Linked DNA regions of Homo sapiens. The protein of the gene in region 2 purifies or fractionates together with the protein of the main gene of each other region. This does not show direct contact. Each region holds a gene or a part of one and is shown on either strand. Other genes may lie near its edges.

Region 1 (8,374 bases), on a different chromosome or scaffold from region 2:
CTCACACCTGTAATCCCAGCACTTTGGGAAGCTGAGGTGAATGGATCACCTGAGGTCAGGAGTTTGAGACGGGTCTGGCCAACGTGGTGAAACCCTGTCTCTACTAAAAATACAAAAATTAGCTGGGTGTGGTGGCAGGCGCCTGTAATCCCAGCTGCTCGGGAGACTGAGGCAGGAGAATTGCTTGAACCTGGGAGGCAGAGGTTGCAGTGAGTTGAGATCGCGCCATTGCACTCCAGCCTGGGTGACAAGAGTGAGACTTCATTTCAAAAAAAAAAAAACCCACAAAAATTAGCCAAGCATGATGGTGTGCACCTGTAGTCCCAGTTATCTGAGAGGCTGAGGTGGGAGGATCACTTGAGCCTGGGAGGTTAAGGCTGCAGTGAGCTGAGAAATTTTTTTTTTTTTTTGAGCAACCTCTGCCTCCCGGGTTCAAGCGATTCTTGTGCCTCAGCCTCCCAAATAGCTTCTGTGGGGTTTGGCGTGTTGGCCAGGCTGGTCTCGAACTCCTGACCTCAAGTGATCTGCCCACTTAGGCCTCCCAAAGTGCTGGGATTACAGGCGTGAGCCACCTTGCTCAGCCAAGCTGAGAAAAATTTAAAACTCAAAATTAATAATACAACAACAAAAGAATAAATTCTCCAGAGAGGCATCATGGTATACTGTAGAAAACATGGACTTTTAAAAAGACAAAACAAGGCTTAAATTAAGGTTCTGCCTTCGTCTAAGTGACTGCCTCGTCGATCCTCAATTCCTTAGTCTATAAAGTGAGGATAACAATGAATAGGGTTGTTGTGATAATGCAGTAATATATCAAAGTTCTTTAAAAACCGAAAAGCAGTATAGAATTATGAGATATTACTAGACCATGCTGTTTCTTCTTGTGGCTATATTTACAGTGCTAATTTATATTACAGCTATTTATGTTTCATTCTCTAAATGTTATCTAAATTCAGAGGCAATAATTGCTCTCCTTGACTCTGAATCAGTTGTATCCACAATGCACTAAACCAAACACTTCAATACTGAGTGTCTCAGAGTTGTGTCAGAAACAAAAAGGAAACAATTGGGTCACAAAAAAACTTTTTGCCGATTTTAGGTGTAGAACATATCTCAATATAAACATTTGCCAAAAAAAGTACTTGTTAAGTAAGAAAGGCTGTCACCAAATCAAAGAATTGTAGTGCTGGAAAAGGATTTGAGTATTTCTGTAGATCATCTACTGTAATACACATTTGATACATACAAAATTTCCCTCTGCAACACTCTTGACAGACAGGCATCTATCTGCTGCTTAAAACACTTTCTGGAAAATGTCTTTTTTCAGGTAATTCTACTAATTGTTAGAAACTGGCCTAAACTCTGTCACCTGTAATTTCTACCCCGCAAATCTTGTACTTCCTCTGAGAGCTACACAGCAACATTTAATTCTTCCTCTTTAGAACAGTTGTTTTTTTTTTTTAACTTTAGAAGAGAATACTCATATCTCTTGTCCAACTCTTTTCATCTTTAGGTTAAACTCCCTTCAGTTCCCCCATTATTGAATGTATGCCATGTTTCAAGTGGCCCACCTTTATACCAGCTCCACTTTCCCCTGCCTCCCTTTGCAGTAGACTAAACAAGCTTTCATGTGTCCTACGGTGAGACCATCGCCTTCTTTGCCATAAACAGTAAGCTTTAGTCCAATCCATTGAAATCTTTGTGGATATTGGACTGTAAGAAATATATTTGCTTTTCTTCCCAGCTCCAAAATTATAAGCAGGTCAAAAGCAAAAAAGAATGCTGCTCTCAGAACTTTGACAATTTGAGTTTTACGCATTCAAGCAATTATTAGAATAGTCAGGCTGCTGGAGAAGATGGCCTTAAAATTCCTTCCTATGATGCTAGGCTTTAGCTCAGGAATAGAGAGGGATAGGTCTATAAGTCAAATCCTCTCATAACACGAGGATTTGTGGATGCAGAATGCTGACAAGTGAGGCCTGGGAGGCAAAACTGAGGTCAACCCTAGTAAGAACCTAGAGCTTCCAAGCCTCAGAACCATTGCTAGTCCTTTATCAAATGTAGTGGTGATACAACTGGAATTCTCCATGACAGTTTTACCGTGTTCTGTCCCATTTCTCCAGAAGTTACTGTAATGTTTCATTATAAACCATATACACAACCCTGGCAAGAAACTTAGAAAGTCAGTAGAAGACTATAAATATCTAATTATACACTAAATTCCTTCCAAAAAACAAAAGCAGGAATGCCTGTTTAAGAATCCTAAGTAAGGCCGGGCGTGGTGGCTCACGTCTGTAATCCTAGCACTTTGGGAAGCCAAGGTGGGCAAATCACTTGAGCCCAGAAGTTCAAGACCAGCCTGGGCAACATAGTGAAACCGTTTCTCTACAAAGAAAAAATACGAAAATTAGCTGGGTATAGTGGTGCACACCTGTGCACCCAGGCACTCAGGAGGGTGAGGCAGAGGATCATCTGAGCCTGGGAGGTCAAGGCTGCAGTAAGCTATGATAGCACCAGCCTGGATGACAATGAGACCCTGTCGCAGAAAAGAAAAAAAGAATCCTAAGATAATCAATAGGACATTATATTCATTTAATCCATTCAGGATAACAATACAAACTCTCAAGAGTCCATGCATGAGGAAACAAGCTACCAATCACAATCTACATGAAACTGGGCTTTATGAGTGGTATGTCTGGTTGCTTTCCAAGACTTTGGGTTGTCAGACAAAACCTATATTATGGGAAATAATAAACCTCAAATTCATTTTTAACATTTGGCCAAGGCAACTGTACCAGGGAATACTGACTTTCAAGAGAAGTTCTACAGTCGACTTTTCTTAATATGTCTACTATTCTTATTCTTTATTCTAAGTGAGTAAATAGAAGATGTAAAGCCAACTGTTTTTTGATTGGAAGCAAAGTCAAGGATTAAGGTACTATGAGAAAGAAGATACAGGGATTCCAGGACCAAACTATGGGAGAAGAAATGTAAGAAAACAAGTGAAAGATGCTTTCAGAAACCTTCTGAGCCCAAACTCTTTTTGCTAACCTGCCATAAATTAGAATGAGATTCATTTTCTAGACAAGATAAACATGAGGTATATATCAATGCTTATTGAATCATTTATTCAGAGGCAAAATGGAAATACGATAGTTTTTCAGTAAGAAAATATAACTAGAATGAAGGCATTAGTTATATCTCAGAGAAATAAGTAGCTTTACAATCATATTAACACTATTGTCATTATTATTATTATTATTATTGAGATGGAGTCTCACTCTGTTACCCAGGCTGGAGTGCACTGGCGTGATCTCGGCTCACTGCAACCTCCACCTCCTGGGTTCAAGCAATTCTCCTGCCTCAGCCTCCCGAGTAGCTGGGATTACAGGTGCACACCACTACGCCTGACTAATTTTGTATTTTTAGTAGAGACGGGATTTCACCATGTTGGCCAGGCTGGTCTTGAATGCCCAAACTCAGGTGATCCACCCACCTCGGCCTCCCAAAGAGCTGGGATTACAGGCATGAACCACTATACCTGGCCTGTCATTATTATTAGTAATTATTAATAAAATGAATGGCAGCAGATATTACTATATGCCAGGCCCTGAACCAAACATCTTTTATGCAGTTTCATTTAATTCTCAAAACAACCCTCTGATAATATGAGATACAGATGCTGAGGCTCAGAGTCTGAGTGTTCTGTTGAGAGTCACAATAGCAGAGGCAGTAAGTCTAAACCTTGGAAGTGAGCCCATACTCTCAACCACTGTGCTATATACTCTACTGCAGTAATGTGTAAACATTTGATAGATACCAATTACTTTCTACAGACACTACACACACACACATAAACCAAATGAGAGTGCCCCTTTCCCTCAATGTTGTGAACACTGAATATTATCTTTTTTTTTTTTTGAGACTGAGTCTCTCTCTGTCACCCAGGCTGGAGTGCAGTGGTGCAATCTCGGCTCATTGCAACCTTGGCCTCCCAGGTTCAAGTGATTCTTCTGCCTCAGGCACCCTAATAATAGCTGGGATTACAGCTGTCCACACCATGCCCAGCTAATTTTTGTATTTTTAGTAGAGACGGGGTTTCACCATGTTGGCCAGGCTGGCCTCGAATCCCTGACCTCAAGTAATCCGCCCACCTTGGCCTCCCAAAGTGCTGGCATTACAGGCATGAGCCACTGTGCCTGGCATCTTTTTTTTTTTTAATAAATTTTTATTTTTATTTTTTTTGAGACAGAGTCTCACTCTGTAGCCCAGGCTGGAGTGCAGTGGTGTGATCTCAGCTCACTGCAACCTCTGCCTCCTGGGTTCAAGCAATTGTCCTGCCTCTGCCTCTTGAGCAGCTGGGATTACAGGCGTGTGCCACCAAGTTTGGCTAATTTTTTGTATTTTTAATAGAGAGGGAGTTTTGCTATGTTGGGCAGGCTGGTCTCAAACTCTTGGCCTCAAGTGATCTGCCCACCTTGGTCTCCCAAAGTGTTGGGATTACAGGCGTGAACCACTGTGCCTGGCCTAATTTTTAATTTTATTTTCGTACAGTGCCACTTTCAGGATATACATATATATTATCAATCTTTTAAATCTGTGTCAATTAATTGGGAAGAGATAGTCCATTATTATTATTATTGACAGGGTCTCACTCTGTTACCCTGGTTGGAATGCAGTGGGGCACAGTCTTGGCTCACTGCGACCTCCACCTCCCAGGCTCAGGTGATCCCCTCACCTCAGCCTCCCAGTAGCTGGGACCACAAGCATGCACCACCACACCTGGCTAATTTTTGTGTGTGTTTTTTTTTTTTTTTTGTAGAGGCGGGGTCTTGCCATGTTGCCTAGGCTGGTCTCAAACTTCTAGGCTCAAGCAATCCACCCACCTTGGCCTCCCAAAGTGCTGGGATTACAGGCATGAGCCCCTGCACCCGGAAGATAGTCTATTATTTTAACAAGGTTGAGCATGTCCTCATTTATTCATTGGTCATCTGCTTTTTCTTCTAGGAACTGCTTGTTCATATCCTTTGTCCACTTTGAGTTAAATGCTTATCCTATTGATTTGTAGGCAGCCATTTATATTCTGGATATTATAATATCTGACGTATAAATGAATTAAATAAATAAATGGAGACAATAAGCCAATATTAAAAAAAAGCTACATTACTACTCTGTATCTTATACCAAAGAAAATTCAGATGGATTAAAGATAATGAAATCATAAAAGCATAATTCATTCTTATGGAAGTCTGTCAGTTTCTTGTTAATTTAATAAAGTTATATTTTTATGTTGATGAAAAAGCTATTCAAATAGGCAAAACAGTAGATACAGACTATACTAGAAAGCTAGTATAAGAGTACTGTGACAAATGCTAGGTGCAGTGGCTCACGCCTGTAATCCCAGCACTTTGGGAGGCCTGAGGTCAGGAGTTCGAGACCAGCCTGGCCAACATGGCGAAACCCCCTCTCTACTAAAAATACAAAAATTAGCCGGGCGTGGTGGCAGGTGCCTGTAATCCCAGCTACTTGGGAGGCTGAGGCAGGAGAATCGCTTGAACTCCGGAGGTAGAGGTTGCAGTGAGTTGAGATCACATCACTGCACTCCAGCCGGGGTGACAAGAGCAAGACTCCGTCTCAAAAAAAAAAAAAAAAAAAAAAGAGTACTGTGACAAATCTGTCAGTGAAAGCAACTGAAAGTAACTATCTTTGGAAATCATAAACATGGTAAATCTATTATTAAGTGAACAAAGTAAGTTACAAAGTGATATTTACAATTCCATTTTTATAAAAAACACATTAAACATTAGCTACATTAGAAGGCTATATTAAATAATATTTACAAAGGTCACTCTAGGTGGCTGGCGTTTGTAATAGGAAAATTAAATAGAATTTTAAAAAATGCATTGCTTTTGAAGATATTCCTTCTAAACAGACATAAAGCTGGTTAAGCTTCTGGAAAGAAGGGACTGTAAGTTATTCATTTTTGTATCCTTCAAGTGTAGAGTGCCCTATACATAATAGTCACCCAACAGACCTTTGTTGAAGGAACGAAATGGGAAACGTGGGATTTACAAACATCAATCTCTATGTCAGCTGCTTAAAATAATCAAATCCAAAATATTTGCAGGAGAATCATATTGTTCCCCAAGTAACATTTCATTCATAACATTAATTTACAATTAGGAAATGTTATGCTTTTAACAAACAAGAAAGAAATGCAAGGTTCTTAATGTGTATGAGAGCCTTGCATTTCTTGAGAGGTAGTATAGCGCCACAGTCCAGTATAGCTCTTAACCACTATGCTATATTACCTTGTATGGATCTAGGGATCCAGGAAAATACAAATCGAAACAATGTGTTGTCCAAACTGGCAAAAATAAAAAAGATTGACCTAGTCAACGTGGAAAACTGAGTACTATCAACACTGTTGGCAGGAGATCATAATGGTGCTCTTTTTGTAGTGATAAACTCTTCTCACAAAAACAGATACTCTGAAAGAGGTAGGGTGAGATGGGGTGAAGGTGATACAAGAATAAAATCTTATAAGATTTTGTTTTTGAAACAACTGATGGCAAATACAAAGCTTCTACTGAATTCACTCAGACCATGCCTAATTTATGCATACAGTATTCACTTTTATGCAGTATCTTTAAATTTTTTTTTTTTAGAGTTGGGGGTCTCGCTATGTTGGCCAGGTTGGTCTTGAACTCCTGGCCTTGAGCAATCCTCCCACCTAGGCCTCCCAAAGTGCTGGGATTACAGGTGTGAGTCACCATGCCCAGCCAAGTCCTCATGTTTCTATCTACTATGGGCATATGGGCAAGCTTCCATGTGAACAAAAGGGGCACATATTTGTAGGGACCTTAAACACACATATTATGTTAGTCACAGACCATTCTATTGTAAACTATACTAAATCATATTATAAAGCTATAATAATTCAATCAAATGTGTATAGGTACAAGAAGAGACAAATAGATCAATGAAACAGAAATAATCCAAAAAAAAACCTATGTCTTATGAAAATTTAGTATATGACAAGGATGGCATTTCAAAACAGTGAGGAAAAGATGGACTAACTACTTAGTAAATAGTACTGGAACTATTGGCTATCCAAACAGCAGAAGTACTTAGATGTCTACCACATACCAAATGTGTAAATACGTTCCAGGTGGATTAAAGAGCTAAACATTGAAAAGAGAAGAAAAGATAGGATATTTAGTTAATCTTGGGATAAGAAAGATCTTTTTAAACAAGATACAAAATGCAAAAGCCAGATGGCAAATATTAATAAATTTGAGGCCAGGCACGGTGGCTCATGCCTGTAATCCCAGCACTTTGGGAGGCAGAGGCAGGCAGATCATGAGGTCAGGTGTTTGAGAACAGCTTGGCCAACATGGTGAAACCCCATCTCTATTAAAAATACAAAAATTAGCTGGGCATGGTGGCATGCACCTGTAATCCCAGCTACTCAGGAGGCTGAGGCAGGAGAATTGCTTGAACCTGGGAGGCGGAGGTTGCAGTGAGCCAAGATTGCGCCACTGCATTCCAACTTGGGCAACAGACCAAGACTCCGTCTCAAACAAATGAAATAAAATAAATTTGAAATGACAATTTAAAAATTCTGTTCAACAAAAAAGGAGACAATACATTGAAAGAAAATATTTGCAAAATACATAATAGGCAAAGGATTGATATTACAATATGTAAAGAACATCTACAAATAAGAAAAATAAACAATAGTAAAATGGGCAAAAACAAAATTAACAAACAATTTACAGAAGAAAAAGAAATGGCCAAATAGAAGAGATGTGCAACTTCTCTAATAATAACAAGAATAACACTGGCTAAAGCATAATGCTCACTGTGGATCAGGTGCTTTTCTAAATGCTTTAGATATCAACTCATTTACTCTTACAGCCCCATGAGATAGGTACTATTATTTTCCCCATCTTACAGATAAGAAAATTGAGGTGAGGTTAAAGCAGTTGCTCAGGGACACACAACTAGGAGCGCAGGGCTGGAATTCCAATGCAGGCAGTATAGAGACATAGTCCAGTATAGCTCTTAACCACTATGCTACATTACCTTTTCATGGATCTAGGGATCCAGAAGAATACCAATTAAAACAATGTATCATTTGTTATCCAAACTGGCAAATAAAAAAGACTGACCTAGTCAACGTGGAAAACTGAGTACTATCAACACTGCTGGTGGGAGAACATAATGGTGCTCTTTTTGCAGTGATAAACTATTCTTACAGAAACAGATACTCTGAAAGAAAGTTCAGAAAATCTATTTACCCAATAAAAGGTGGACAATAGTCAGTTTCTTACTAAAACATTAATTTTACTTTTTCCTGAAGGTAGTAGCA
Region 2 (8,374 bases):
GGGGAAGCAGCTTCTTACTCAGCTGGGGAGGCCCTTATACTGGGGTGCAGGCCTCCTCGCCCCATGGCAGGCGACTTGCAGCCAAGTGGAGGGGAACCGTGCCACGTCCTGGAGGCTGTGTGGCTTCCTCAGCTGGGCTCTGGGGCCCACTCAGAGGTCTGAGGCCCCAGGGGTCACCTAGCCCAGATCCAGCCTTGCTCTGGATACCCGTGTGACATGGGGTGGTGTGTGTTTGAGGGGCTGCCAGGAGGACACAGATGGACGCCTGCTTCGGGTGTGGAGGGAGAGGCTGGTGCAGAGCACGGGGGTGTTGGGGGGCTCTGTGACTGCCCCCAGGGCACAGGAGCTGCTCAGGAACGGATTCTGACGTCTGCCCCCGAGAGTGGCTGGGGTCCGTGGTGCTGCTGGGCGGGTCCAAACCCTGCCACCCATGCTGTATGGACCTGCCATGGAGACGGGGGTCCAAGCCCTGCCCACCCACACCGTGTGGACCTGCCACAGAGGACAGGCTCGCTCAGGGTTGGCTTCCTTCCTGGGACGCTGGCACAGAGGCACGGTCGCCACAGTCCCTCGGATCCCCGAAAGGCGGCAAACTCTTTGTCCTTCCCAGTGGGTTTTGATCAATACAATCACCCCACGTTGCAGCTGTGAGTCCTCGTTCAGCAAACTTCAAGAAACGGAGCAGATGGTGCTGGAGTTCTGACTCTGTAGTGCTTGCTGCCTCTGAATCTCCTTCGAAATCCGTCTTTTAATTCCTAGTAAGTACAGTTCTCTATCAAATTTGCCAGCTGCCAACGGAATGCTGTGGAGGAGGAGGGGGCGTTAGGAGGGCACCCAGGGCCAGGAGGAGGGGGCGTTAGGAGGGGGCCGGCCCCGGAGGAGGGGGCATTTAAGAGGACACCCAGGGCCAGGATGAGGGGCTGTTAGGTGGGCACTGGCCCAGATTGGCCCTGCCTCTAAGCACACGGAGGCCTGTTCCTGGGACAGAGCCGCAGGAAGGACAGGGCGGATGCCTGAGTGCTTAAGGCCTTCGTCCCTCCAGCTGGCCACACCCAGCCCCCCAGCTGGGCCTCTCTTCACTTTCCAGAGCCTCTCCCCTTCCTGCCTTCTCCTGCTCCAGGATGAGTCCAACCGATCCCGGGGAACACAGCCCTGAAGGTCCCAGAACAAAGCCCCAAGTGGAACCCCACGATGACAGGGACCCTCTTAGCTCATGGGACGACGGCACGACCCCCAGGCCCAAGGGGGAAGGTGAGCGGGAGAACACTGACTTGTCTCGCCCCGGCCTCACTTTCACCCGGAAGAGGCCATACACAGGGCGGTGGTCGGACGTCTTGATCCCGGGGCAGGAAGAGTAGCTCACAGGACAGATGTCACCCTTGTGGCGGCTTCTGTACAAGACGCGGTCCTTTGGGAAGATTGCAGAGGCAGGAGGTCCAGTTACTTGTGAGGAGCCGTGGGGCGTGGCCCGCTCACCTCCCTGCTGTTCTCAAGCGCCCCCCACAAGGAAGCCTTCTGGGACCCCTGACACTCATGCCCATTTTGTTGCCTGGCGTCTGTGGCCAGCTGGGCCAGGGCCTGTCCCTCGCCGCTGGAGAGACCCTGTGGACAGCGGCTGCTCCTACCCTGCCCTGCCTCAGTGGCTTCTTGAGGCTTCCAGCAGATATCCAGATATCGGGACATGCCCAGAGATGCAGCCATGGGCCTGGCAGGAGGGTGAGCGAGGGTGCAACGGGCAGAGGGCAGAGGCTCTGCAGGCCGGAGGCGAGGGCATGGCTGGTGCCCTGTGTGCCAGCCGGCTCACCCAGCCTTGAAAACACCCATGGAGAGGGCGCCGTTCTCCACCAAAGGGGACTTGCCACAAGGCCAAGGTGCAGAGCTGAGTTTCAAGTCCAGGCCGTCCAGGCTCAGACCCCTGACGCCAGGCATCGGTTCCCGGCTGTGGGAGATGCCTGCCCTGGAAGCACTCTGCACCGCAGCGGTGGGCAGGCCTCACCGTGTATGAGGGCGTCCTCTGCTTGGAGGTGCTGTCGTACGTGTCCTTCCCGATGTCAAACTTGTATGATGGGAGGAAGTGGATGTCCGGCTCCTGGAAGCCCTTGAAGATGGACCCTGCCACAGGATGGGCACTCGGACTGGCTCAGACCAGCTTGTGCCAGCCGCCGCACCCCAGGCCCTCACCTCTCCTCATCTCCCACCACGCCCACCCTCCCCCCACCCGCCGCAGGCCCTCACCTTTCCTCATCTCCCGCCACGCCCGCCCCCCCAGGCCCTCACCTCTCCTCATCTCCCTCCACGCCCGCCCCCCAGGCCCTCACCTCTCCTCATCTCCCTCCACGCCCGCCCCCCAGGCCCTCACCTCTCCTCATCTCCCTCCACGCCCGCCCCCCCAGGCCCTCACCTCTCCTCATCTCCCTCCACGCCCGCCCCCCCAGGCCCTCACCTCTCCTCATCTCCCTCCACGCCCGCCCCCCAGGCCCTCACCTTTCCTCATCTCCCTCCACGCCCGCCCCCCCAGGCCCTCACCTTTCCTCATCTCCCGCCACGCCCGCCCCCCCAGGCCCTCACCTTTCCTCATCTCCCTCCACGCCCGCCCCCCCAGGCCCTCACCTCTCCTCATCTCCCTCCACGCCCGCCCCCCCAGGCCCTCACCTCTCCTCATCTCCCTCCACGCCCGCCCCCCAGGCCCTCACCTTTCCTCATCTCCCTCCACGCCCGCCCCCCAGGCCCTCACCTCTCCTCATCTCCCTCCACGCCCGCCCCCCCAGGCCCTCACCTCTCCTCATCTCCCTCCATGCCCGCCCCCCCAGGCCCTCACCTTTCCGCATCTCCCGGATGAGCTGGTCGTGCTGCAGCAGCGCCGGCACGTCCACCACCAGGCCCTGGCACAGGAGGGCGTCCACGACTGTGCGCCCGCCACTCAGGCGGAAGTTGAAGTCTCCAAACCAGAACACCTCATCGAAGCGGGTGGTGACGTCCGCTGCGGCACAGTGGGCCATGTGTGGGCACAGGCAGAGGGACGGCAGGTCCTTCCCCTTCCCCAGAACATGGCCTGGGAGTGGCTCTCAGGGGAAGTGGGTCTTGGGCGCCAGCCGGTGGGGCCGGGCCCTCAGGGGTGGGATTCGCACTGGGACAGTTCCAGAAGGCACCTGGAGCAGCCTCAGGAGCAGACGATGCCCATGGCAGGCGATGGCCACGTCCCTGCTCCTCTCCACACAGCCAGGGGAGGCGGCGGGGCGGGCAGTGGCGAGGACCAGGACCCAGGCTAGTGGGCCACGCCGAGTGGACAGGATCCGCCCACCCCACTAACCGTGCTAAAGAACCGCGAGGGGCCATGCGCTGGGGGCACTGGACGTTTCGGCCCTCGCTTCCCAAAGCTCAGGACGCTGCCTCTTCAGAACTGCCCTAAAAACGACGGGCGCCCGTGTGCGAACCACGGCGGCACCACCCACACGCAGCGTGGACGCCCTCACCTGCGCTGGAGCGATAGGGGTTGGTGTCGGGCACATTTCTGGGCAGGACCAGGGCTTGTACAGTCCTGGTGTAGTCCAGCAGCCGCTCCGCCACCTTCCCGTCACCTGCTGTGGGAACAGAAATGGGGTAGGGACCACAGGGTTCCGGATGCTCGAGTCTCCCTAAAGCGCCGCACCTCTGGACTGTGCCCTGACTGCGCACCCCCGGCAGACGCAACCCCACCGGGCATCCGCTGCCGGGCCCAGCCAGTGACATTTCCGCCTCGGAGGACAGAGCACGGGCCCAGCACGGCACGCCCTCGGTGCCGGGGTCTGCCGGGGGTCCTTGGCGTGCATCTTAGCAAGCGTGGTGCCCACCCCACGGCCCTGGGTGGAAGATGAAGCCAGCGGTCAGGACCCCTGCCTTGGACAGGGTCCCGGTCAGGAGAGGAAGCTGTTCTCACACAGCACCTGCGGTGCGGGCACCAAGCAACTTACAGGTGAAGTGGGACGTGATGAAGAGGAAGGAAGTGCCAAAAAAGGTGAAGCTGATGCCCAAGGCCCCCTTGGTCTTGATCTGAGACACGATGCGTGTGGTCACCGTGGAGCACTCCACCTCTGTGGGAGGGGCAGCCCTCAGCTCACCTGTGGGACGCTGCCACCTTCCAGCCGCGCCCACCCCTCCAGCCGCGCCCACCTGAGCAGAACCAGATGAGGTCCCTGCGGATGAAGAGCGACATGTAGAGCACGCCGTGGGCCGCCGAGGACAGCAGCACATAGTGCGGGCCCAGCGTCTCCTGCAGACGAGTCTCCCACTCCCGCCTGCAGAGGAGGAAGCACGGCCGGCTGGGGGACATGGCCTCCCAGCTCCGCCACCCCCAGACCTGCTGCCCAGAGCCCCTCGAGGAGCTACCAGGGAAACCCCACGACCTGGCCTTGGTGTCTTGCGCGGAGAAGCAATTGCCAGAAGGCCTGGTGGGCCAGAGTTGGGACCTGCCGGGGGCCACAGGCCCCAGTTCCACTTGAGTGGCTCCCCTGGACCCCCGCCGAGACCCCAGTGAGCAGAGCTCCTCCCGCCTGAGGGACTCATGGGCCAGGGAGGTGGGGCCCACCTCAACTCCTTCCCCCAGAGCACCTGTGTGGGCGGCAGCCACCTGCTGTTCCCGCCATGACATGGGGGCCCGGGAGGCCTTGGGGCCCGGCCCTGCTCCGGCTGCCCTTCTACTCTCGCACGCCAACAGTTTGTTACCAAAATCAAATCTCATTGATTTTAAACTCTCCGAGTTGCCACTGGAAAAAAATCTGACCCATGCCTCCCACCCAGGCGTGGAGGCTGCCCGTGCCCGGCCGCCACCCGGGTCTCAGCGCCCAGCAGCTTCAGAGACGGCAGCCCCCGGGCAGGCACTGCAGATCTGTGCCCGGCCACGAACCGGGTATCAGCGCCCAGCAGCTTCACAGATGGCAGCCCCCGGGCAGGCACTGCAGACCCGTGCCCAGCCATGACCACAGGTCTCAGCACCCAGCTGCTTCAGAGACGGCAGCCCCTGGGCAGGCACTGCAGGGCCTGCAGCCGCCCTACCTGTCAGAACAGCCCTCCTGGACCCCGATGACATACAGGTCCTGGGCATAGTCGGCCTCGGCTGGGAGCAGGAACTCGTCCAGGCTGGGCGGGAGCTCCTGGAAGGAGGGAGCATGTGGTGGGCCGGCTCCTCCCGAAACCTGCAGGCGCCTGTGGGTGAATCCCACTGCGGTGCCTTGAGTACCAGCGACTCCTCCGAATGAGGGGAAACTGAGGCCAGGGCCAAAAAGGGAGCTGCCCGGTCTCCGAGGCAGCCTCTGACACACCAAACACGCCTCACGTTGGCCCTCGGCCTGTTTCCCTCTCCAAGCACGAGTCTGTCCAACGACCACCCCTGTATGACCCTCCCGTCACCATGACCCCAGCCCGTGCTGCCCACCCTGTCCCTGAGCCACCCCTACGCGTGCCCCGCTGGCCGCCCTCCCGCTCACCTTGAGCAGGTGATTCTCGGCCAGGCCCGTTGCCCCAACCCCCTCCCCTACTTTCTGCAGCCACGTGGCCAGGGAGGTGCAGGTGGGAGCTCTGGGGGATGGGGGTCCTTACCCACTCTCACCCTCCTGTACTGCGGTTAGCAGTGGGGTGCACCTCGGGGCTCTGCCCTCCTGGCCCCAGGATGAGGCACAGAGCTGCCCCGTCCCCCTCACCCGCCTTTGTCCAGCACCACCCCACCCTTCCCCGCCCAGCACCACCCACAGCCACTCACCTTCTGGCCCTGCATGTTCCAGGTGGCCACGAAGAGTGCCACGTTCCGGTCTGGGAAGTAGCGGGCCAGCTCATCCGCCCCCAACAGGGCCCCGCTGGCCAGGAGGCTGCCCTCCAGGTAACTCCTGTGACGGGAGGACCCCAAGCTCAGGGCCAGGCACAGGACACATCCCTGGGGGTCTGGGCCAGGTCCCCAGGGACAATAGCAAAACCCATGGAATGTCAGGAGCTGCCCCCAGCCCCAAGCAAGGACTCTCCTGGCCCCCGCGGCACTGCTGTCTGCTCTCCAGGAACACAAGGCCTGACCTGGTTGCACAAACACCCAGAGCGGGTTCACACCCCCTCCCTACCTCCCGGGAAGAGGCATGAGAGGGTGACGGTTTGGGCTTTTTGGTGGTGGGATCCTGGAAAAGCCACAGAGAGGAGCTCCCAAACTATAAGCCAAGGCAGTGGGCACAGGGTGCTGTTCGGGGAGGGGCTGGTCCTCCTCCTTTCTCCTTTGGCCCCAGCACCAGGCAGGACGGTCTAAGATACAGAGACCACACGAGCCACACGGAAACGCGTCCATCTCCTCGACACCCCGTGGCTTTGACGCACTTTTGGGTTTGCTTGTTTTGGTTTCTAGTGGGGACAGGGTCTCACTCCGTGCCCAGGCTGGAGTGCAGTGGCACTAACACAGCTCCCTGCAGCCTCTACCTCCCGGGCTCAAGTGATCCTCCTGCCTCAGCCTCCCGAGTAGCTGGGACTCCAGGTGCAGTGCCACCACGCCCGGCTAGTTATTTATTTATTTTTTATTTTTGTAGAAACAGGGTCTCGCCACGTTGTCCAGGCTGATGCTTTCAGATTTTAATACGGCGGTGCACACAGATGGTTAAACACCGTGTGGCACAGCAACGTCCCTGCCCCTCCCCACACTCAGCACCTTCTGCCACGAGGGCTGGTAACCCGTCAAGAGGCAACCGCACACGCCTGCCGCTCCGTGGGACATCCAGTGTCTGTCGCCGTGGGCTCTGCTACGGTGGTGCAAGAGCCACCAGGGGATGTGGACACAAGGGGTGCAGCCGTGTGCCCGAGACGCTTGATTTACAGACACTGAAATCTGAATTTTACAATTTTCTTGTACTATGAAACATCATTAGAATGGTTTTGACTTTTTCCAACCATTTGGAAATGTAAAACCCGTTCTCAGCTCGCCGACTATACAGAAACGCCGTGGGCTAGGCTTGCCAGCCGTCCTCCCCGCTCCCTCTCTAAGTAACACTTGTGCGGCTCCTTCTGGATACGCCGTCTTCTGACATGGTTCCCTTCCGCAAGGGGACACGAGAGCATAGTGCCGGATTCCTGTGACCTCCCGCGAGAACTTCTTCAACCCTGGCTGCGGCTCACCAAGCTTCACTGGACACGTTAAATCATGTCAGCAGGGAGGAACCTCGCTACCTCACCCCTAAAACTGTCGACAATCCCGGTCGGGACAGCTGTGTTCACACAGTGGTCATTCGGGACAGAGAGCGTTCCTGTGGGCACCCCTGTCAAGTGATCCCGGGCCCAGCAGGGGCTCCTCGGTCACCAGGCTGGAGGCCCACGGCCCCTTTGCCGGCAGCGCCCATCATGTCCACACCAGCAGCCACGTGGTCAGTCTGCCCAGCTCTGTCCAGAGCATGGTTAGTAACAGCAGGCCAGGGGCGGCCCTCACAGCCATTCCTGTGTCTAGACACGGGCAGGGGCAGAGCTGCCTCGGACCCCCATCCAGGGCCAGGACACTGCACAGCTTCTGCATGAGGACGCTCAGGCTGGCTGCCACAGCCTGGGCCAGCTCTCCGAGCAAAAGGAACGGGTGGGGAAAGGCCCCCTAACCCGCCCTGGCAGCCCCAAGGCACTGGCAAAAGCCAGCAGCCATTCTCAAACAGGGCGGACCCAGCCCGTGCACACGCGGCCCGCAAACTCAGAATGGGTTTTACTGTGTGGAACGGCAGAGAAAGAAAAAAGAGCGAGGTTCCAATGTATGTCCCTAATAGACTCACTGGCACACAGACGCCCTTTGGTCCCCACTGTCTGTGTCTCCCCCTTGACAGAAAGAGTGCGCCGACTCCTATTCTAGAACAGACCGGAGGTCTGGAAATGGGAAGCTGTTAGGCAGCAGAACTGGGTTAAAGGATCCACGTCAACCCTCGTTTCCTGGTTGTTTGAAAACAATGACTTGAGGGTCCAAATTTGAGACACGACTGTCCTTTTCTCTAACAGGTGTATCTACGTCAACCGGATCTAATTTTAAAATGTGATGCTTTAGATGCACTAAGAAATCTCACTCTTTACGAGAAGCCCTGCAGTGAATTATTTTAACAAAAGCAGCAGTCTTGCCCTGGATGTGATCGCACCTGCTCCATCCATGACAGGAGGAGAGTATGGTGGGGGCGCCAGGCACGGGCCCTCACTCCAGGCCTGAGCCCACCTGCCTGCTGGTGCACCACAGACGCGGGGAAGTGAGGCTACCTTCGGGGACTGTGGTGAGCTGAACAGTGATCCCCAAAGCCATGTCCACTCCCAGAGCCCCAGAACCTTGGAATGGGACCTTATTCGGAAACGGGGTCTTTGCAAACGTGTTTAATTAAGGATCTCGAGATAAGACCACCCTGGATTTAGG

The links. The genes of interacting proteins can lie anywhere in the genome.
Region 1: the proteins of INPP5E (region 2) and PDE6D purify together in Homo sapiens (affinity purification with mass spectrometry; 3 studies listed by BioGRID and IntAct, with this or other methods). This does not show direct contact.

Annotation. Positions count from the first base shown.
Region 1 is NC_000002.12:231,770,686-231,779,059, forward strand, and holds part of PDE6D (retinal rod rhodopsin-sensitive cGMP 3',5'-cyclic phosphodiesterase subunit delta), read right to left. Parts: exon of another isoform or gene 8,038-8,374; intron 1-8,037. UniProt on the Homo sapiens protein: Promotes the release of prenylated target proteins from cellular membranes. Modulates the activity of prenylated or palmitoylated Ras family members by regulating their subcellular location.
Region 2 is NC_000009.12:136,429,006-136,437,379, forward strand, and holds part of INPP5E (phosphatidylinositol polyphosphate 5-phosphatase type IV), read right to left. Parts: intron 5,859-8,374; coding exon 5,735-5,858; intron 5,130-5,734; coding exon 5,032-5,129; intron 4,275-5,031; coding exon 4,150-4,274; intron 4,071-4,149; coding exon 3,951-4,070; intron 3,582-3,950; coding exon 3,474-3,581; exon of another isoform or gene 3,311-3,473; intron 2,981-3,310; coding exon 2,819-2,980; intron 2,113-2,818; coding exon 1,997-2,112; intron 1,409-1,996; coding exon 1,272-1,408; intron 803-1,271; coding exon 670-802; 3' UTR 1-669. UniProt on the Homo sapiens protein: Phosphatidylinositol (PtdIns) phosphatase that specifically hydrolyzes the 5-phosphate of phosphatidylinositol-3,4,5-trisphosphate (PtdIns(3,4,5)P3), phosphatidylinositol 4,5-bisphosphate (PtdIns(4,5)P2) and phosphatidylinositol 3,5-bisphosphate (PtdIns(3,5)P2).